3 linked regions of the Homo sapiens genome follow. The protein of the gene in region 1 purifies or fractionates together with the protein of each later gene. This does not show direct contact. Each region holds a gene or a part of one and is shown in the gene's direction. Other genes may lie near its edges.

What was found.
Region 2: the proteins of KIAA1143 (region 1) and PAXBP1 purify together in Homo sapiens (affinity purification with mass spectrometry; 2 studies listed by BioGRID and IntAct, with this or other methods). This does not show direct contact.
Region 3: the proteins of KIAA1143 (region 1) and ECD purify together in Homo sapiens (affinity purification with mass spectrometry; 2 studies listed by BioGRID and IntAct, with this or other methods). This does not show direct contact.

The regions. Positions count from the first base shown.
Region 1 is NC_000003.12:44,750,919-44,759,330, reverse strand, and holds part of KIAA1143 (uncharacterized protein KIAA1143), read left to right. Parts: intron 1-4,962; coding exon 4,963-5,107; intron 5,108-5,723; coding exon of another isoform or gene 5,724-5,778; coding exon 5,779-5,990; 3' UTR 5,991-8,412.
Region 2 is NC_000021.9:32,746,913-32,755,324, reverse strand, and holds part of PAXBP1 (PAX3- and PAX7-binding protein 1), read left to right. Parts: coding exon 1-95; exon of another isoform or gene 96-3,209; intron 3,210-3,972; exon of another isoform or gene 3,973-4,071; intron 4,072-4,106; coding exon 4,107-4,206; intron 4,207-4,292; coding exon 4,293-4,408; intron 4,409-6,626; coding exon 6,627-6,826; intron 6,827-7,076; coding exon of another isoform or gene 7,077-7,112; exon of another isoform or gene 7,113-8,412. UniProt on the Homo sapiens protein: Adapter protein linking the transcription factors PAX3 and PAX7 to the histone methylation machinery and involved in myogenesis.
Region 3 is NC_000010.11:73,132,325-73,137,577, reverse strand, and holds the end of ECD (protein ecdysoneless homolog), read left to right. Parts: intron 1-659; coding exon 660-874; intron 875-2,764; coding exon 2,765-2,995; 3' UTR 2,996-3,910; downstream 3,911-5,253. UniProt on the Homo sapiens protein: Regulator of p53/TP53 stability and function. Inhibits MDM2-mediated degradation of p53/TP53 possibly by cooperating in part with TXNIP. May be involved transcriptional regulation. In vitro has intrinsic transactivation activity enhanced by EP300.

The DNA.
Region 1 (8,412 bases):
CAATATATTATTGCTCATGGACAATACACTTGGTCACCCAAGAACTCTGATGGAGATCTACAAGGAGATTAACGTGGGGTTTTCATGCCTGCTAACACAACATCCATTCTGCAGCCCATGGATCAAGGAGTAATTTCTATTTTCAGTCTTATTATTTAAGAAATAACAGCCAGGCGCAATGGCTCACACTTGTAATCCCAGCACTTTGGGAAGTCAAGGCAGGTGGATTGCTTGAGCCCAGGAGTTCAAGACCAGCCTGGCCAACATGGTGAGACCCCATCTCTACAAAAAATACAAAATTTAGCCCAGTGTGGTGGCATGCACCTGTGGTCCCAGCTACTTGGGAGGCTGAGGTGGGAGGATTCCCTGACCCCAGGTAGGTTGAGGCTGCAGTCAGCCATGATTGCACCACTGCACTCGAGCCTGGGTAACAGAGCCAGACCCTGTCTCAAAAAAAAAAAAAAAAGTCAAAACCATTTGTAAGGCTACAGCTGCCATGGATAGTGATTCCTCTGATGCATCTGGATATTGTAAATTGAAAACTTTATGGAAAGGCTTCACCATTCTAAACACGTTAAGAACATCCATGATTCATGGGAAGAGGGCAAAATATCAACATTAACAGGAATTTGGAAGAGGTTGATTCCAACCTTCATGGATGACTTCGAGAGATTCAGGCCTTCAGTGGAGGAAGTAATTGCAGGTGTGGTAGAACAAGCAAAAGAACTAGAATTAGAAGTAGAGCCTGAAAATGTGACTAAGTTGTTGCAGTCTCATAAAAATTGAACAGATGAGTTGCTTCTTATTGATGAGCAAAAAAAGTGGTTTATTGAGATGGAATCTACTTCTGGTGAAGATGCTGTGAACATTGTTGAAATGTCAATAAAGGATTTAGAATAAACTTACTTGGTAAAGCAGCAGCAGGTTTAAGAGGACTGATTCCAATTTTGAAAGGAGTTCAGCTGTGGGTAAAATGCTATGAAACAGCATTGCAGCATCACAAAAGAGAAATCTTTTGTGAAAGGAAGACTCAATGCAGCAAACTTCATCGTCTTATTTTTAAAAATTGCCACAGCCACCCCGCCTTTCAGCAACCACCACCCTCATCAGTCAACATCCATCAGCATCAAGGGCAGACCCTTCACTGGCAAAAAGATTAGGACTCACTGAAGGCTCAGATGATTTTTAATGTTTTTAGCAATAAAGTATTTTTAAATTAAGGTAGGTACATCTTCCAGACTCCTGTTAATGTTGATATTTTGCCTCCTCCCATGAATCGTGTACTTAATGGGATCTAGATTTTTTTAGACATAATGATATTGCATACTTAATACTAACTGTAGTTAGTGTATAGTGTGAACATAACTTTTATGTGAACTGGGAAACCAGAAAATTTGTGTGACAATTTATTTTGATACTTGCTTTGTTGTGGTGGTCTGGAACCAAATCTGCGGTATCTTCAAGGTATGCCAGTAGAATGAGTATGTGCTAACCCCATGCACTGTCGCAGGCTCTGAAAGGACGAAGAGATGGATCTCCAAAATGCCATGTTCTTTAACACTTCCTGCCCTATTTTCACAAGTTACCATCTCTCCGAAACCCTTCAAAGCTCTCCAAACAGTTACTCTTTCTGTTTTTCTCTTTACCTTATCCATATCTTATCTATAACATTCATTTTATATTGCAACTACTTGCTTTCCTGTTTATCTTCACCACTAGATTGAACTCTTTAAGTTAGTATCTTAATCCTTCCGTATTTTCCCAGCACCTAGCACAGTGCCTGGCACGAAGTAGTGGGTAACAGTTGTATTTGTTGGTGACTGTGCTGTTATCAGGTTAGACTTCGTGGAGGAGGGATATTTAGATAGACTCTCGAGCATGGTTAGGTCAGCAGGTAGAGATGAAGAGAATGGCATGGGTAAAGGTGTAGAGATTTGAGAGTCATGGACTGTATGTAGAAGTGTTAGAGGGGCTAGTGGAGGTGAGGCCATGTGGACTATTTAGTAAGCAACAGGGAGCCATTTTTTTCTTAGAGGTAACACAGGGAATGACTGATCCCCATGACTAAAAATAGGGATGATGACAAAGAGGGTAAGGTTTGAGAAAAGGGACATAGATTGAGCGATGAGGAGAAGATGAGACCCAGCTTTACCTTGCTTGAGGTCCTGGTGATGACCCTGTATGCACAGTTGACAGCTTGAAGGTTACAGCTTGGAATGCTATCTTAAGAGAACTTCGGGAATCCTTTCCAAGTAATATCAGTGATTTTCGCTTATTTATGTACTCAAGGGAATTTCCCTTAGAGAAGTACGCCATGTTTCAGTGTGAGAACCACTTCATTTTTAATCAGTTTGGCAATATACAGTATTCCCCCATTATGTTCCAAGACCCCCAGTGGATAATACTGAATTCTATATATACTATGTTTTTTCCCATACATATATACCTATGATGAAGTTTACTATATAAATTAGGAATATCAGCAGATTAGTAACTAATAATAGAACAATCATAACAATATACTCTAGTAAAAGTTGTGTGAATTTGCTTGTTTGCTTGCTGTCTCTAAATATTTTATTGTACTGTACTCACCCTTCTTTCATACTACAGTTGACCACAGGTAACTGAAATTGTGGAACATGAAATTGAGGATAAGGAGGGGACTACTGCAGTCAGGATTTTAGTCATCTATTAACAAAAAGAAATGAGTTTCATGGGAAATCATTCCATAATTAAGCTAAATCATCCTATTCACTTTTATTTTTTTTGAGGCGGAGTCTTTCTCTGTTGCTTAGGCTGAAATGCAGTGACTCGATCTCAGCTCACTGCAACCTCCACCTTTTGGGTTCAAGCAATTCTCCTGCCTCAGCCACCCAAGTAGGTGGGATTACAGGTGCCCACCACCACACCGAGGTAATTTCTGTATTTTTAGTAGAGACGGGGGGTTTCACCATGTTTGCCAGGCTAGTCTTGAACTGCTGACCTCAAGTGATCTGCCTGCCTAGGCCTCCCAGAGTGCTGGGATTACAGGCATGAGCCACTGCGCCTGGCCCTATTCACTTTCTTGAGAGTTAATTCAGAAATGTCTCTGAACAGTCATCAGTGGCTACTGCCACTGTCCTTAGACTATTTCTCTTGTTTTCCAGGCAGTCACATTTAAAAAGAAAAAAAGAGAAGAGAGTCAGAATTAATTATTCTCAATTTAACAAACAAAAGGAATGATTTTATTTCACTTTCCCATATTTTTGGCTAAAAATACTTACTACCTATTTGTGGTCATTTATTGGAGACTTTCAGAGAAAAATTGGCAGAAACTGATGAATAATCAGTGAACTAACATAGATACCATTAAAGAGAATGTACTTGTGCAGTGATAGAGCAGACTTGAGAACTTGAGTTATAGTTAAAATGGCACAAGCAACTTGCCAGGGCTTCATGTAGTTCATCATTTTCCATTCTGTTGGTCATTCATGAGTAGATCAACAAATATTTCTGGAAGTCCCTGCTGTTTTCCAGGCTTTGTGCCTCTCCAGAAGGCACTTGCCCAGTGGAAACCAGCAGAAAAACATTGGTACCACAGTGCAATACATGCTACCTATGAGCTATGCACAGTGTAAGAAACAAGAGAAGGTGAGATTTAGGTAAGCACTTCTAGAGGCTCTAAATCTGGAAGGCAGCTTGAGTAGGAGTTGCTCAGGGGCTGTGGGGCTTAATAAGCCGTAGGAATTTGTTCAGAGACAGGGGAAGCAAAGGAGCTAATATATTTATAAATCTCCAAGTACTCAAACCTTGCCATGCCAGAGTCTAGATGCCATGAGAGAGTGGTACAGGATAAAGCTGTGGTTATGGGCTGAGGCTAATTCTTGCAGGGCTTTGTCGCCTTGTTTGGGAGACCAGGAAGTCTCTATGAGAAGTGGAGTAATGAGTGATTGTGTTTGAATAACATATGAAAACATATTTTGGTATGCATACCTTTCAACCCAACAGTTCCACCTCTAGTGAACTGTTAACATTAAAAGTTCTTGCATACAAGTTCCCAAAAGTGAGCAAAAATGGGTGCATGAGGTTTTTTCATAGTAGAAAAAAATCTGGAAACGAGCAAAATTTGTATTTACAAGATGCTGGTCAAATAAATCTTGAGGTGACCATATATGTAATTAAATGCAAGGCAGTGATTTTTTAAAAATCAGATAATTCTATATCTTAAAGTACTGTACAAAGATATTTTTTGAGTTAAGTTGTGGGAGTGGGGCTCTTACGGTGTCTCACATTTCAAAAATCTGAATCAACTGGCAAAATATTACCATCTGTTACACATATACAGGGAGTACATGGTTTCTGTTATGTTATTCTCTGTACTTTATGTTTGAGAAATTTCATAAATAGGGAAAAAGCAAGTCACAGGAATAAGTACAGTGTTGTTGGTATACAAAAAGTTTTATGTACCTACATAGTTGTATAGACGTGGAAAATAGCTGATAGAATATCCACCAAACTGAAGCTATTAGGAGGGGGAAAAGATGAGCAGAGGTGAGAGAGAGAGTACGTTTTACTTGCTGCTTTCTGTACTTTGATGGTGTTTATTTCTTGTCTAACTCAGAGAAGAGACAGGCAAAAAGTGCTGATGAGGAGCAAACAACTGACATGGCACAGTGCTGCCCTGAGTAGGCTAGGAGTGACAGCAGTACCCAAAGCAGAGGGTCCCTCACACTAGTAACTACAAGCTGGGTCCTGCTGAGATGGAAATGAATCCCACCGGACAGGCACTCCAGGCTGAATGGCAGTTAAACCTGTTCCCTTGTGTGGCAAGCTAAGTCTCTTTGGAGTTACCTTAAAATTCATTGCCCTTATTTACTCAATAAAGATACCCTTCTCATAAATAATTACAGTTTCTCTTAGAGGCAGTGGTTCTGTTTGTCTCAAGATCAGTGATCTACACATTGTATTTGTGTTTTTCCCTAGAGAATTCAGCCTCAGCCCCCAGATGAAGATGGGGATCACAGTGACAAAGAAGATGAACAGCCTCAAGTGGTGGTTTTAAAAAAGGGAGACCTGTCAGTTGAAGAAGTCATGAAAATTAAAGCAGAAATAAAGGCTGCCAAAGCAGGTAGGTCTAAAAGTAATCTGGTTTTTCTAACAATTTAAGGAGCCCAGGGTATGAAATTGTTTATTTTATTTAGTAGTGTGGTGTGTTTCAAGGTGGCAGTTCCGGGTTCAAGCCTTAGCTTTGACACTTACCAGATGTGTAACCTTGAGCAAGTTATTACACCTCTCAGCCTCGATTTCCTCATCAGTAAAATGGAAATAATTGTACCTATTGGGTTGTTACCAGGATTAAGTGTGAATTTAAGTAAAAGCATCCTATTTTTTTTTTTTAAATAGATGGTTAGACTTATAAACCAGTCAAAAAAGGTGTATTTCATTACTGCCTGAAGTTTGGTATGATATGTAGTATATTTTTCATTATTTCTGAACATTTACTACATTGCTTTAGGGGAAAATGCTGTAGTTCCAAACAGTCACTTTTCAAACTACTTAAAAATACAACCTGATTGTAATTGGGAACTGACAATATTATAGAATACTTTAGCATGTGAGTTTTTATTAAGTAACTGCATGCCTTGAGGGCAATATAGCTAGAAACAATGGAGAAGACCAGACTGAATCAGATTCAGGGATATCCTTAAATACAATATGAGATTTTCTTATTATTTGCTTCTAAGGTAAAGGCAAAATAATGAGGAGAAGAAAGTTCTTAAAAATTCTGTTTTTGCTCAGATGAAGAACCAACTCCAGCCGATGGAAGAATCATATATCGAAAACCAGTCAAGCATCCCTCAGATGAAAAATATTCAGGTTTAACAGCAAGCTCAAAAAAGAAGAAGCCAAATGAAGATGAAGTAAATCAGGACTCGGTCAAAAAGAACTCACAAAAACAAATTAAAAATAGTAGCCTCCTTTCTTTTGACAACGAAGATGAAAATGAGTAAGTGTAAATATTTTGAATTTAGTCTACTTTGAAAGTATATGGAGTGTTCATTAAAATCACATTTTTTCCTATTATAAAGATACTACAAGTTCTTTATAGAAAGTTTAGGAAATAGAGAAAAAAATTTAATAAACTACATCTATTCATCAATACCCCTCTGACTTAAAATGCCAACTCTATAGAAATTAGCTAGTATTAACATTTTGTTATTTCCCTTGTGTGGTTGTATATATATGTAAATTATATTTTTAAGCAAAATACATTTTTTGTGTGTAAACAAAATTTTATAAATACAACTGTATTGCAAATGTTCTTTGTCCTGCTTCTCACTTGACATTGCATTACGAGTATTCTTCCAGGTCAGTAAATTTCAAAAACCTGACATTAATAGCTACAGATAATTTCATAAACATCTCATTGTATCTTTTTCATTAGCAATAGCTCCACTTTGGGTGGGGGAGATGATAATGTGCCTTGTTAAAAATACCTCCCCAACTCCTGCTAAGGGTGGCCATGAGACTCAGCTCTGGCAAGTTAAGAAATACAGGTGGAATTCTGCTTGATAAAGCTGCTGGGTTTTTTGTTACAAAAGGACAGACTTGGCAAACATGAGCCTTTGCTCTTATCTTTTCATCCTACTTGGAGTGCAGAGATAAAACCTGAGTACCAGAGCCACTTTTAGGCATAAGGAAGGCAGCCATGTGCTTTGGGTCATGTTAGTAAAAAGACTCAGAGCTTGGCTCCTTGCTGACATGCCTGGAGGAGCTGCTACACCAGCTTGGATTGCTGACCTCTGACTTCTTGGTAGTGAGAAGAATAAACACTGTGCTTAATTAGGCCTTGGTCAGGTTTCTTTTATATGCAGCCAAATGCAGTCCTAAGTAATACAATAAATAACTGGTCAAACTGTTACTGGTGGAGGGTGTCCAGGTTCTTGGCATTTTGGACAAATAATTGAACAAAACGCACAAAGCAATGAATATCCTCTAGAGGTTTGCCATTGGTTACTTGGCGTACACCCTGTGTAAATGAAGTAGTGGCCCGTGACCTGTCTGATTGGTGCAGAAAGTGACCAATCAGAGGCTGAAGTGAAGTTACAAAGTTATACTCCTGTGTAAATGAGGACTTGGCCTATGACCAGTCTGATTGGTTGCAGGAGGGGACCAATCAGAGGCACTTTCATTTTTCATCTGCAATGCAGAAAAGGCAAGGGGATTGCAAAGGGAGTAGCCTCTGATCCTTTTGTTACTTAGGTATGGAGAGGTGGGGTTTTCCTTTTGATTCAGTTCTAGGAAGTCAATGTGAATCAGCCTTAGGTTCCCTGTCTCCAGACCCTATTCTCCTGCCTCATTTTCCCCCTGAGAGACGTGATCCTCGTAAATCTTTATGGGAGGCTGAGAGACTGAGGGTCTTTCTTCTGTAACTGCTTCATGCTAACTTGGGACACAGTCCCTACCTATTGGAGATCACGTAACTCTCACCCTGCTTTGTCTAGGGGAGACAGGGTAGCTTCTTGATGGCCGGTGGTGTCTTCTCCTGAAACTGGCTAGAAATCTTGTCACATGATCATCTAACTTGGTGGTCTCTAGGCAAAAGGAAATGGATTTGGTTAAAAGATTTAACAGATATGGTCCAAAAACCAAGGCAAATATAATCATTAATAATGGGCTGGCCAAGGGAGGGAGCCATGAAACCCAACTTAGTGCCCTTTAGGTGCCCCAGCTGTTGTCATATTTTAGAGGCCCAGTCAGCTAGTTTTCAGGTGGTGTCCCTTACTAATCCTGATTGGTTGACATCAAAACAGCATTCTTCTTCTAGGAAAATACATAAGCCACCTGTTTCAGCAGTTAGGAGATCTAGTCCCCTTCGATTTTGCAAAGCGACCACTGCCAAGGAGCCTATCCGAATTTGTAAGGTGACAATACTTTGAGCAATGTTATCCAGGCTTTCCATAAAATCCTTGGACAAGCGTTGGTAATAGGATAGGGAAGTTGCAATCCCGCTAACTCCCATTCCTACCTCTGCTGTTATTCCTAGCCGTTGTGTCTGGTGGTTGCAGTTAAAGGTATAATGAGGGATTGGTTGTTGGGAGCTATATTAATTTAGGGACATACAATATTTCTGTCTCCAGTCTACCACTTCCACCAAAGACAAATCACAGCAGAACCGACCTAACTTCAAAATAAACTGCAGTCCCATATACTGGGCCTGATTACCCACACAAAGTGCAACAAGAATCATTGTCCATATAGACTCTCCTAGATTGGCTTTGCTAGAACATTTCACAAGGCCATTTCAGTCAAAGTCCTGAGAAAGTAACCGGTTTCAATTGTGCCCTATTACAAAAGAAAACGTGGTTATTAACTTTATACAGACAAATGCCATGAATTAAGAATATTCATAAATAGTTTACAAATTCTGGA
Region 2 (8,412 bases), on another chromosome or scaffold:
AATACATCAGCTGTACAAACAGCGAGCTTCCCGCCTTGTCCAAAGACGACAAGATGATATTAAAGATGAATCTTCGGAGTTTTCAAGCCATTCAAGTCAGTCCATCTTGAAGGTTTTTATTATTCATTAAACAACCTTGTTTACTTAGTGCAGCCTAATTGAAAATTAGAGATCTTGGAGCTTTTTTTTTTTTTTTTAAAGAAACAATTTCCTTGCTGTTGTGTCAGGTAGATCTAAAAATGGTAACAGCATGTACTTGAATTGTGTTTAAGAAAATAGAGCTTCACAAAGGAGCTCAAAAACGTGCTAAGATTCTGTCAGTCTTCTTATTCTTTGGGCATATTTTTTCATTCTCCTTTAGAGTATAGAAAAGACATTATCCGTATTTTATGTTAAAACCATTATCTGTTTGGCCCTAATTGGTTTTTTCCCCCATTTTCATTCAAAACACCAATACAAATAAATGCTTTTGTTGATCACAGTGAAAGAGTTTGAGTTTAGGGACTGGGACATGTTGTGGGTAGGGGGAGGGAAGCTATAACTTAACAAATGACACAACTCCAAGATAGGAGAGTTTTGAGCTTCATCCTTTGGATAAAGCAAACTTTTTGTAATTTCTTTTTAAATGTTTCTCTAGTTTGCTTTATGTACTGTGTTTTTTAGTAAGTCAGTTGGTGCTTACAATTCTTGAAATTTTGTATACAAATGGATAGAAATTGAATTTGTACTTCCATCATTATGACATGTGTTATGGAAAACCAGAATTAGAAACCTCTTGTTAAATAGTTCAGCGGAGGTCCTTTAACTGGATGTTTTAAACCGTTTAGTTCCTTTTTTTCCGTTACCCTCCATATTCTTGAGTGCGCTAATAGGAATTTTCCTAGTGTGAATTCCTTGTGGTTTCTTTTGTCATTTCTTTGTTCCCTTTGTCAGCATTTCTCAAATGGAAGTGTGCATCACAATTACCTGATACTCGTTTAACATACAGATTTTCTGGTTCTATCCCCAGTGATTCTTACTAGGTCTTCAGCATCCAGAAATTTGCATGTTAAACAATCTCTCCAGGTGATCAAATGCAAATAGCTCTAATGTTATTCTTTCAGAAAGCAATGCTTTGCTATACATGGTCTCTAAGTCAGAGAGACATAGGATCCCTGAAAAAGCATCCTCCTATATGTCAGATGGGTTTTGGAGAGGCATAAACAGATGGTAATACGGCCCTCATAGCTGAGGTAGTCTCAGCTATGAGCCCTATAAATGGCTATGACCTTCTGTTTTTGCCACTGAATTTTAAATTGGATTATTGACATTAGCCACCTACATGACTCATGCATCCCTCCCAGATCACTTTTGATCCAGACAGAACCAGATTTCTGGGGCAGATTACAGGTAACCATTATACTACAAAGGGAGGTAATTTTCTTTTAAGTTAGATGGTTTGTGTGAGCTGTACATTTCATCAAATACCTTTTCCCATCTGTAATTTGTTCTTGAGAATATGGAGCTATTTACTTAGAGGGGATTTGAAAGAAGAGTTGAATTATTTATATTAGTTTGATTGAAAGTTGGAAAGAAATTAAAAGATACTGGGAAAGTGAAAAATACAGTCCTAGAGGGAGTATACATTAATTGCCAAAGATTTGAGGAAAATGACATGGGATGCTGGAGAATCAATTCATTTTCTGATCTGTTTTTTAAAGAAGTAAAGAATAGTCTGAAATTCTTCTGTTTAGATTTATAAGCACTTATCTGCAATTACTGTGTATAATTCTTACAGAAATGGAGGAGGCTATCACTTGAGTCATGTTAGACTCACCTGTCTCCTCCAGTGCACATTTTACAAAACCTATACATGCAGTGATGTTTTAAGTATAATGTTTTTTTTTTTTTTTTTTTTTTGAGACGGAGTCTCGCTTTGTTGCCCAGGCTGGAGTGCAATGGCGCAATCTCGGCTCACCGCCACCTCCGCCTCCCGGGTTCAAGCAATTCTCCTGCCTCAGCTACGCCTGGCTGATTTTTGTATTTTTTTTAGTAGAGACGGGGTTTCACCATGTTGGTCAGGCTGGTCTTGAACTCCTGACCTCGTGATCCACCAGCCTCAGCCTCCCAAAGTGCTGGGATTACAGGCGTGAGCCACCGTGCCCAGCCGTATAATGATATTTTTAAAAATATTTCTTGAAGGAAAACTCTTGAGTCTGGAATTATTTTTATAGTTTGGGATATTTTAGCTAATTCATCTGGGGTGTGTAGTGAACTCACATCTAGGGCTGGGAAATCTTTCTGGTTTAGTAATTTTTCATTGTAATTGATGCACTCAGGAACATACCTCCTTCCTAATTTCAGAGCTATTTTGAAATATGAATGAAAAACTCAGTAAAAAAAAAAGTCAACTTTTAAAAATAGTAGGGTCTGGTCAGGCACGGTGGCTCTCGCCTGTAATCCCAGCACTTTGAGAGGCCGAGGCGGAGTTTGAGACCAGCTTGGCCAACATGGCAAAACCCCGTCTCTAAAAATACAAAAATTAGCTGGTGGCGGGTGCCTGTAATCCCAGCTACTCAGGAGGAGGCTGAGGCGGGAGAATCGCTTGAACCTGGGCGGCGGAGGTTGCAGTGAACTGAGGTTGTGCCATTGCACTCCATTCTGGGCGACAAGAGCAAGACTCCGTCTCAATAAATAAATAGATAGATAGATAGTAAGGTCTGATAATTAGGATATTCTGAAGTAAGAGCTAAATTTTGGTTTTGTTTTTCCTGTTGCTGATTTTGGTGACACATCTCTGTTGATATCAGTAAATATCAATTGATAAGTAAAAAAATATGCAAGTCTTAACTTGGATGTCTTTCATCTTGCATGTGCTCACCTCCCTCCCCTCTCACCCAGTCGTTTGGGTTGTTTGCCTCCCCTTACTGTCATATCTTCATAGTGTGGAACTAAAACGTAGAAATGAGGGAAGTATAGTGGACAGATGTTTCCCCCACCCCTTCTTTTACCTAGGCAAGAGATTAGGGGAGTCTTTTTTGATTAAAGAGAGTAGGTCCAAAATAAAGACCCTGAAACACTAAAATCTGGGGATCCCCAACAAAAGAACTGGCTCAGTACCTAGTGATCCGACGGAGACACCTCTGTTAGACAGCTCCTGCCCACACACACAGCTTCCAGTCTTGCTCTTCTATATGAACAGGCAGTTAACGATGATCATAAGGACCAACCTGAGCAGCAGAACCAAAGGGACTGAGGAAACAGACAGTGCTGGTACAAGTATGCAAGTTTTCTGTAAACAGATTACTTTCAAACAGTTGGGAGCCCCAGGGAGATAATAGAAGGTATCCTACTCAACAGGAGTATATAGAATGCTGTAGAAGAGGAATATTGTAAGAACAAGAACTATCTCTTGAAAACTAAAAATATGATAACTGAAATATAAATTTAAATAGGATTGGAAGCTAAAGCTAGGAAATTACCCTAGAATGTTTTTTGAGAAATGGAAAATACGAAGACCAAAAAAATAAAATAAAACTATGCTGTGAAAGAGAAAGATTAGCATTTGAGAAGGCGGAAGTTGGTCCTGCTCAGATGCGGTTTTCAGATGCCTTATTCTAAAAATAGTGATAGAAAACAAATTTCTACAAAGCAAAATTACAATAAATTTATTAAACTCTTGCAACAAAGCTGTTTTCTTATGTCTTCCTATGTTTTCCTGCTGTCATTCAATGTGATGCTGAAGTTCTTCCTCCTTAAAAATGTAATATTTTTCCCTTTGCACAGGTAATTTAGAGTTTTAATTTATTTGGTCATCATGATAGCTATTCCTGATAGCTGTCCTGTTACTTAGACATAAAAATAGTGAGTAAGCCCAATTACATATTTGTAGGGTTGTTGAACTCTTAAAAAGAAATCACTTCTTTAATTTTTCTACTTTTTAAAATGGGAACGCAGAATAATAATGAAATTTGTTCTAAACCAAAAACCTACCTGGTTTACCAGTTATTGCAGAATCTTGCCGTTGAGATTAGCAAGCAGTCTGTCGTAATGGCTTATTCTGTGCAAACTCTTTCCTCAAGATTGTTGAAAGATGGCTTTTAATTTTAACTGTTGTTGTTTTGCAGACAAAGCTCTGATGGCACCAAATCTTGACTCCTTTGGACGCGATCGGGCACTGTATCAAGAGCATGCAAAACGTCGCATTGCAGAGCGGGAGGCCAGGAGGTAATTCTCAAAACCCTTGCTCTGGCTTGTTTGGGAAGGGAGGAGTCTCTGTTATCTAGTTTGGGAACTTGATGTTTATTATTTAGGACTCGTCGTAGACAAGCCAGAGAACAAACCGGTAAGATGGCAGATCACCTTGAAGGCCTTTCCAGTGATGATGAAGAAACTTCTACAGATATTACTAATTTCAATCTGGAAAAAGGTTAGACATTTATTTGGAAATAAGACTCATCATCAGTTTAGTTTCTACTTGGGTATGGTTTTTACCATGAAATGATTTGAATCTTCATGGTCTCTGCATTAGAACCAGACACTTCTTTTTTAATTGCAGAAATTTGCATGCCTTTTTATTAGTGAATATCATGATGAATTCTCAAAAATAGGGGTAACATCTTCTCATAGGGTGTACTTAGTATTTGCATAATAAATGTTGTTACTGTTCCAAATGGTAGAATTTTAAGTGACTGGAAATGTGTCAGGTCCTTGAGGGCAGCTCTCATTGCAGCCTGTCTGGTCTGGAAAGGTAAAGCTTGGCAGTAGAGCACTCAGCCCTGAAGGAAACTCTTGATTTGGGGAGTCATAAGTAATCTCACCTTAGAGGAATGGTTAGTACTATTATGTGCCAGGCATTTTCAGAAGGATCCCAAATAAAAGTCTTCATTTCCCACCATTGGCTATAATTGTTTGGAATTATATCAATTGCACACCATTTGGAACTTAGTTGGAGAAGCTTCTTTCTCTTACTTTTTTTACAGTGAACATTTCTAAACAAAATTTGAAAGACTAGCACAGTGATCATCCACATACCTATCACTCAGATAACAATGCTTATGATTTCACCAAGTTTGCCTGGCTCTTTATACAAGGAGATGTGTGTGTTTGCTGAACCATTTGAAAGTAACTTACAGACCTCATGGCTCTTCACTCCCCAAAATTTCAGAGTGTGTTTCCTCTAAATGAGTATATTTTTCTGTATAATCACAGTATTATTATCTTTTTTCTTTTTGTTAGATGCCTATTCTGATTAAGTATTTCTTTTTTTAGCACAATAAGAAAACAGATTTCTTAATATCATGTCCATATATAATTTTTCTCAATGGCATCCTGGAAAAACCCTTTTTAGGAACTATTTTTATGGGTTATTTTGTGGTTTTTGAAACCAGGATCCACCTAAGGTTCATGCTCTGCATTTGGTTATGACATTTTTAAATCTGGAATAAATGAGTAACCCTAAGTACACATTCACACACCCACCCCTATTGTTCTTTAAATTTTTGAAGAGACCAGGCCACTTCTCTTATAGACTGTCCTATATTCTAGACTGGTCTGTATGTTTCCTCATAGCATTGTTTAACTTGTTCTTTGATCCATTTCTTGTAAACTGGAATTTAGGTCTGAAGGCTTAATTAGATTTAAGTTAAACTTTTTTTTTTTCTTCCCCAAGAATAATTTATACAGGATGCTGTTTCATACTGCTTAAAAGCACATGACAAATGTTAGACTGTCCCCACTATTAGCAATGTTAAGATTGATCTTGCAGTAAAGGTTCTCAGAACTTTATCTCTCCATTGTAAATATTTCCTTTTCCCAAGTAATCTGGGACATCATAAGAGTATCTTATTCTTGGTTGGGCACAGTGGCTCACACCTGTAATCCCAGCACTTTGGGAGGCCGAGGCAGCGGACCACTTGAAGTCAGGAATTCGAGACCAGCCTGGCTCACATGATGAAACTCCATCTCTACTAAAAATACAAAAATTAGTTGGGCATGGTGGCGCATACCTGTAATCCCAGCTACTCAGGAGGCTGAGGCAGGAGAATCACTTGAACCTGGGAGGCAGAGATTGCAGTGAGCTGAGATCGCACCACTTCACTCCAGCCTGGGTGACAGAGTGAGAATCTGTCTCAAAAAAAAAAAAAAAATCTTATTCGCAAATAACTTTTCACTTAAAGTTCCTAGCATCCATTCAGCTGATAGTTGGCTATGTCAGTTATTATAATCACCAACAGAGTTTGAATGAAGCAATGTGATTAGTGACTGATTATGATGCACAGCTGTTAATCTGTGCAGTGATCTGTGAACTAAAAAGCTAGCGGCACAATTACTTATGGCTAATACACCGTAGTAACTGAAATTTGAACCATCTTGTTTGGGAACAGGTTTTATTTAGCCAAACTGTGGTAGAAAAATTGTATATACTGGAACTGCAAAACAAGGACTGGCTGCACTTTAGTTTACATAATAGACAAATTGAAACTTCAATTTATTTTTTTCTTCTAAATTGTGACTAACAATTGGCCCTTTGTTAATGAGCGTATCTTCTGATACTGAAGCTACAAAGAAAACACTGAAAATATTGGACTGTTTTTTTCCTACTTCATACTAATGTATGGTTCTCTGTGGGGTTTTGTTGTTTTTAGATCGAATTTCAAAAGAATCCGGCAAAGTTTTTGAAGATGTCCTTGAAAGTTTCTATTCAATTGACTGTATTAAATCACAGTTTGAAGCATGGCGTTCAAAATACTACACATCCTACAAAGATGCTTACATTGGCCTTTGTTTGCCAAAATTATTCAACCCCCTCATACGACTTCAGCTCCTCACTTGGACTCCTCTTGAGGTGAGTGGCTTCTGTCACTATTAGAAAGTGTTATAATTTGATATCTGGGTAATTTTAATCTCAAAGCTAGAGATGTAAGCTTAAGCAAAATATTTTGCAGGGGTGATAGGGCATAGGCTATAATTGATAGATTGTATCTGGTTATAATCTTATGATCTTTCCTTTTAAGTTTCATGTCTTCCCAGCAGAGCTATGTGTTTTTTTTGTTGTTGTTGTTGTTTTTTCAGTTTACATATAATCCTTTTTTCAGCCAGCTGAAATTATATGCAGTAACACTGGGATATGAACATGAATAGTAAGAACTTGGTCCTTTGATCCTAGAGGAACTCAGAACCAGATGGGAAAGCACAATGAGGCAGGTGTGAAATGAGGACATGACCCAAGTCAGTTGTCATGGTGAGAAAAATTGATAGGCCAGGCATGGTGGCTCATGCTTGTAATCCCAACAGTTTGGGAGGCCAAGGCGGGAGGATTGTTTGAGCTCAGGAGTTCAAGACCAGCCTGGGCAACATAGCAAGACCTTGTCTCTACTTAAAAAAAAAAAAAAAAAATTAGCTGTGGTGGCATGTGCTCATATTCCTAGCTACTTCGGGGGCTGAGGCAGGATTGCTTGAGCCCGGGAGATCAAGGCTGTAATGAGCTATGATTGTGCCACTGCACTGCAGCCTGGGTGATAGAACAAGACCTGCCACAAGAAAAAAAAAAAAAGATAAGGAGGTGGAATCAAGAGGACCTATTGGCCTGTCATATAAGGGAGGGGGCTAGAATTGACTCTGGAGGTCTAGTGGTGATGTTTACAATGTGGTTTTAGAAGTTACCAACGTGGGTGAAGCTGTAGACATGGTTGAGATTGGCTAGGTTGAATTTGTGAACTATAAGGAAAAGGGAGCTGAGGTTGATGCCATGGAAACACAACTGAAAAAAATGTGAGCTCTGAGAAGCATTCAGCTCACAGCTCCTATTTCCTGTGTGCTCTTGGCCAGACCTTCTGAAGTTTTGCTGTGTGCATGAGTGTCTTGGTAGATAGCAAAGGCCCAAGACTGTATTTTGGAGTTATTTTTCTGTGTCCCCCACTCCTCTGCCCCACAGTTTCCAGCTGTGTCAGCCTTCCTGAGCTCCACCCTCTGTCTCCTCCACTCAGCAAAACTGCTCTGCTGTCCTGAACTAGCATCTCACCTCATTTGATTCCTTTCTTTAAAGGGTCATAGTCTTGTGCTGCCTATGGTCCATTGTATTTTGTCCAGTTCTTTTTTATTTTCTTTGGCTTTTAAGTTCCAGGGTACATGTGCAGATTTGTTACATAGGTAAACATGTGACATGGTGGTTTACAGCACAGATCAACCCATCACCTTGGTAGGAAGCCTAGCATCCAGTAGCTGTTGTTGCTCTCCCTCCCCCAAGTCCCCACCCCCACCCCCCAACAGGCCTCAGTGTGTGTTTTTCCCCAGTATGTGTCCATATATTCTCATTGTTCAGCTCCCACTTGCGAGAACATGTGGTGCTTGGGTTTCTGTTCCTGCGTTAGTTTGCTGAGGATAATGGCTTCTAGCTCCATCCATGTCCCTGCAAAGGACATGACCTCGTTC
Region 3 (5,253 bases), on another chromosome or scaffold:
GGTCTCGATCTCCTGACCTCATGATCCGCCCATCTCAGCCTACCAAAGTGCTGGGATTACAGGCGTGAGCCACCGTGCCCGGCCTCATTAAATATTTGAGAGTGACTGAATGCTGTGTGTTTAAATAGGGTTTTACCTTGGCTCCCATATTATATTGTTCTTTTTTGGAATTACTGTACTTACAAATCAGTAATAAAAAGATAACTCAAAAAATAATTATAATATGTATATATGTACAGAACTGCAGAGAGAAAGATTGGGATACCCGGAAACTGCTAAAAGATGCTTACCTCTGGGGAGAGAGTGAGATTGGAGACAATACTTGTATGGCTTGAATGTTTACATCAAAATGTATTCATTTATTAGGTATTTTTAAAAATTTTTTAAGAAAAATATTTTAATTAATTGAATTCACTTTTTTTTAAGCTAAATCTTTTGATTCAGCTTGTACGCTTTTCCACAACATTAAATGCACACATATCTGCCAGCATTACCATTTGTAGAAGGGATTTTTGTGAAGTAGACTGACTGTGTGTATTAGTCTTTTTCTGTGGGTAACATTCTAATTATTTTGAGATGTGTAGTAACTAAATAATAATAATAATAATAATAATAATAATAATTACTAAGTGGCTCTTTCTTTCTTGGGATCTGTGTAGGGCCAAGGCCTAATGAGTCAGATTCTGATGATCTGGATGATGAAGACTTTGAATGTTTAGATAGTGATGATGACTTGGACTTTGAAACACACGAACCTGGCGAAGAGGCTTCCCTGAAAGGAACACTTGATAATCTCAAGTCATACATGGCCCAGATGGACCAGGAACTAGCACACACCTGCATCAGCAAAAGTTTCACCACTAGGAACCAAGTGGTATGTGTGTTTTTAACCTCTTTCTCTTTCTGAGTCTAGTATGTCAGATAGCTAAAACCATATTTTATCATAGTTTTTCTTTTTTTGGTGTGTGAGATTTGAAATAAATAAGAATGTTAATTGTTTTCCTAACTCTGGTAGGATAAAGGATCATAGACTTAATTTTCCAAAACATAAGCTTCATTATATTACTTATTCTACGTTATCTATCAGGATTTAAAATAAAAAGTCATATAATATGCTCAAATTAGAATGCGATTGTACACTACTACTTCTTAAATACATTTTTTTTCAAAAGTAGTTTAAAAAAACTACAGCTTAAATGGATTTTAAAAAAGAGAGGGCACATGTTCTCAAGACCTTTTGAGACTATGCCTTGGGCCACAGTGGATTAAAACAAAATAACATAAGTAAATAAACAGGATCTTAAACATTCAAATAACTTTCCAGTTTTAACAGTTTATTTTGTATTTTTCCCTAATTTAGAGCCAAATTTAGGATTCACCTTCCGTTTATGTTTTCATCCTAGTTTTTAATGCCACCACTGTCTAATCCTAAACAGAGGTATTATGGAAAGAGCAAGAACCCTGGAGTCTTATGGGTTAGGGTTTGAAGTCTAGCTCAGCTGTCCACTGTGAATGTATCTATAAACCAGTAATCCTCATATCATAAAATTAACATGAGAACCAAATTAGACAGCAGTAAAACCTACAATAGGCCTTTAATTAATGTTAATTCTCCTTGCTTTGATCATCTAAACCACTTTTAAAACTATAGTCACTTCCAGAATTGTCAAAATCTAGTAGAAACCATACATTAGATTTATCTAAAGCAGTATTTCTTAAATTTTAATGCGAATATAAACCAAAAGATCATGTTACAACATAGATTCTGATTAAGTAGGCCTGGGATGAAGCTTGAGATTTTCCTTTTTTTTATTATTATTTTGTTTTATTTTATTATTATTATTATTATTTTATTTGAGATGGAAGTCTCCCTCTGTCACCCAGGCTGGAGTACAGTGGCACGATCTTGGCTCACTGCACCCTCTGCCTCCTGGGTTTAAGCAATTCTCCTGCCTCAGCCTCCCAAGTAGCTGGGACTACAGGTGCGCACCACCGTGCCTGGCTAATTTTTGTATATTTAGTAGAGACAGGGTTTCACCATGTTGGCCAGGCTAGTCTCTGGAGCTCCTGACCTCAAGTGATCCACCCACCTCAGCCTCCCAAAGTGCTGGGATTACAGGCATGAGCGACCACTCCCAGCTGAGTTTTTCCATTTCTAATAAGCCCCAAGCGATGGAGACTCTGCTGCTCCATGGACAATGCTTTGGGTAGCAAGGACATAAAAGTCTATCGAGCTGTAATCTTTCAAATCCTTTCCCCAGCTTGTGGAATCAGAGGCCCAACTAACAATTTAGAATCTTTGTGGTTGGAACCACAAAGCCTTGTGTTTTTACTTTTAAGCTTTTTCACTGGGGGGAAAGAAAGGAACACTCGCTTCTTTCATTTTGAAGAAAATTTACATTATTATTTCATTTAATATTCACTTTTATGTTTGTTTCTTTTAAGACTCTTAGACAAGTTATAAATGTACCTTCTTAATTCTATTAGCCCTTGAGCTATTTCAAAATAGACATGCAATTTATTCGATTTGCAGGAATCTTTCCTGGAGAGAAATGTGTTATAACCTTTAGAACCAAGTTTTATTATGTGTGCTAGGCCATATAACTTGTAGACTTCATTTTCAGTTTATATCACCAAGGATAAGAAGTTTCCTTTTTAATTTGGAATGCAAATTTACATTGTGGCTTAGTTATCTTTTTATTGTAACCACCATGCAACCTAATGATACATTAGCCCATAATTTTCTTTTCCCTCTATGAATAAGGAACCTGTATCCCAGACTACCGATAACAATTCAGATGAGGAAGATTCTGGTACGGGAGAATCTGTTATGGCACCAGTAGATGTAGACCTGAACCTGGTTTCAAATATATTGGAATCCTATAGCTCCCAAGCTGGACTGGCAGGACCTGCTTCCAATCTTTTACAAAGCATGGGAGTGCAGCTGCCTGACAACACCGATCACAGACCAACAAGTAAGCCAACAAAAAATTAACCAGCACATTTAGCTTCTCTTTTTTCTTTTTAAATAAATATTGAATATGATTCTGTTCATTTCTAGTTTAGATTACTCATTTAGTAAAAATGTTTCTTCATTACAAGTTTTACAGATTGACTTCTCCATGAGCCCCAAATGTGGCCCTCTTGGCACAAGTCTTTGTGATCTCAGCTGTGGGTTATACACAGGTTTTGAACTCGGCAGGGTAGAATCTAGCCCCTAGACAACCTTGAGATGAAATTCACACACTTCATGCTAAAGACATACCCTACCACAATATACCCTTGGAGTAATTCTAAATATTTAAATTTCTCCCTTACTGCTATTCATCCTCAGATCAAAATTTCAAGTTGACAAATTTGGATTTGAAAACTCATTCACTTTTTCAATTTTTTTAATGAGGCATAACATGCATATGGTTAAGTGCACAAATCTTAAGTGTACAGTCAGTGAATTTTTGCATGTATGTATGTACCTGAAGCAAGATATAGAACTTATTTACTTGTAAATAACAGCTATATTGATATGTCACATACCAAAAAATTTACCCTTTAAATTATACAATTCAGTGGTTTTTAGTATATTTACAAAATTGTGCAACCATCCCTACCATCTAATTCTAGAATATTAGAAACCCCATACTCACTAATAGTCTCTCATTCCCTTCTACTCCCAGCCCCTAGAAACCACTAGTCTACTTTCTGTCTCTATGGATTTGCCTATTTTGGATATTTCATACCTGATACTGTACTTAATTGTTTTAATTAATTAATTGGTTTGATATTTAATATAACTGATATATCTTTTGCTAAGATGAAATGTTTATTTCTTAAAATGATGCTCATATTCCTCCTAAAATAAATCAAGTATTATCTATATATCATAAAATTCACCATTAAAAGCAAAAAAAAAGTCTTCTTTACAGACAGCTCCATATACTGACCATGTTTTTATAATCTAGGTCTCTGGATTCTTCTTTATTATTGTATGCAGCAGAGAGATGCCTTTACTATATCTTACCCTATCCAAGTAAAAACAATGGAAATAGTTTCATACTGTTCCCTCTCCAGTGACCAAGGGAGGAATTAGGAGAATGGTGTAGTAGAGTTCTCATCTGAGAACTTACTATCACGAACTAATAAAAACTGAATATGGCCGGGCATGGTGGTGGGCGCCTATAATCCCAGCTACTTGGGAGGCTGAGGCAGGAGAATAGCTTGAACCCGGGAGCCGGAGGTTGCAGTGAGCCAAGATTGCGCCATTGCGCTCCAGCCTGAGCGACAAGAGCGAAACTCCGTCTCAAAAATAAATAAATAAAAACTAAATATACCATATCCCACTCCAATCCTTTGTCTTCCTAGTGTTCACTGAAATGAACTAAGGAAGAGGATAAGTGTTACACATTGACTAAAGTAACACATCAGATGATATTGTGCAACATTTTAACATTTTAAATAATAATTATTTTAAATATATTTTTATTGTTTGTTTTGAAGCTACATTTCTCATGTTAAAAATGGGGCCAGAATGCCGTCCCAGCTCAACTGTGAGAAAAAGGTTTCCCCCCATCGCACTTGTGGTACATTAGGTTTATCTTCATTGAGGATTAAATATTGGGTAGAGAAAGGGTGATAGGCAAAAATATAAATGAAATTTTTTTTTATTCTGGTTGCCACGGCTGACTGACTTTCAGCCAGGCTCACAAGATTTTACCTGTTTTTCTATTCTGCATCATGGACCCAGATGGGTTCTATTTATCCTTAGCACCTTCATAATTTATTGCCCATGTATATATTCTCAGGTCAGGTAGGTCCTGTACCAAAGTTTCTTTTATTTATCTGCCATTTTCAGTATTCCAGGCCTGCTCTCTTCTGCCTCAGCTTTCAGATATCCTTGGGGTTCTACAGCAAAGCTCTTTTCCCACTCACTACTGAGAAGCAAAGTTCAATGTTGCAGCTCCTGCTGTTAGCCACTCTCATCTTTTCTTTTCCAAAAACACATTAATCAAAAAACAAACAGTTACTCCATGGTAAGTTTGGGAAACTCATAACCAGGAATTCCGCACACTCCCCTTTCTATCAGTATTTTCAGATTGGGGATGTGTACACATGCGCTCACAAACACACCCACATAGAGATAGAAAAGATTGGGAGATGGTAATACACATGGACCCTGAACTGTTTTCTTCTAACTGCAAGATATGAAGAAATCTCAGGACCTCTCTTTTGTGAGTGCTTTTCCCTTCTGCATGCTGG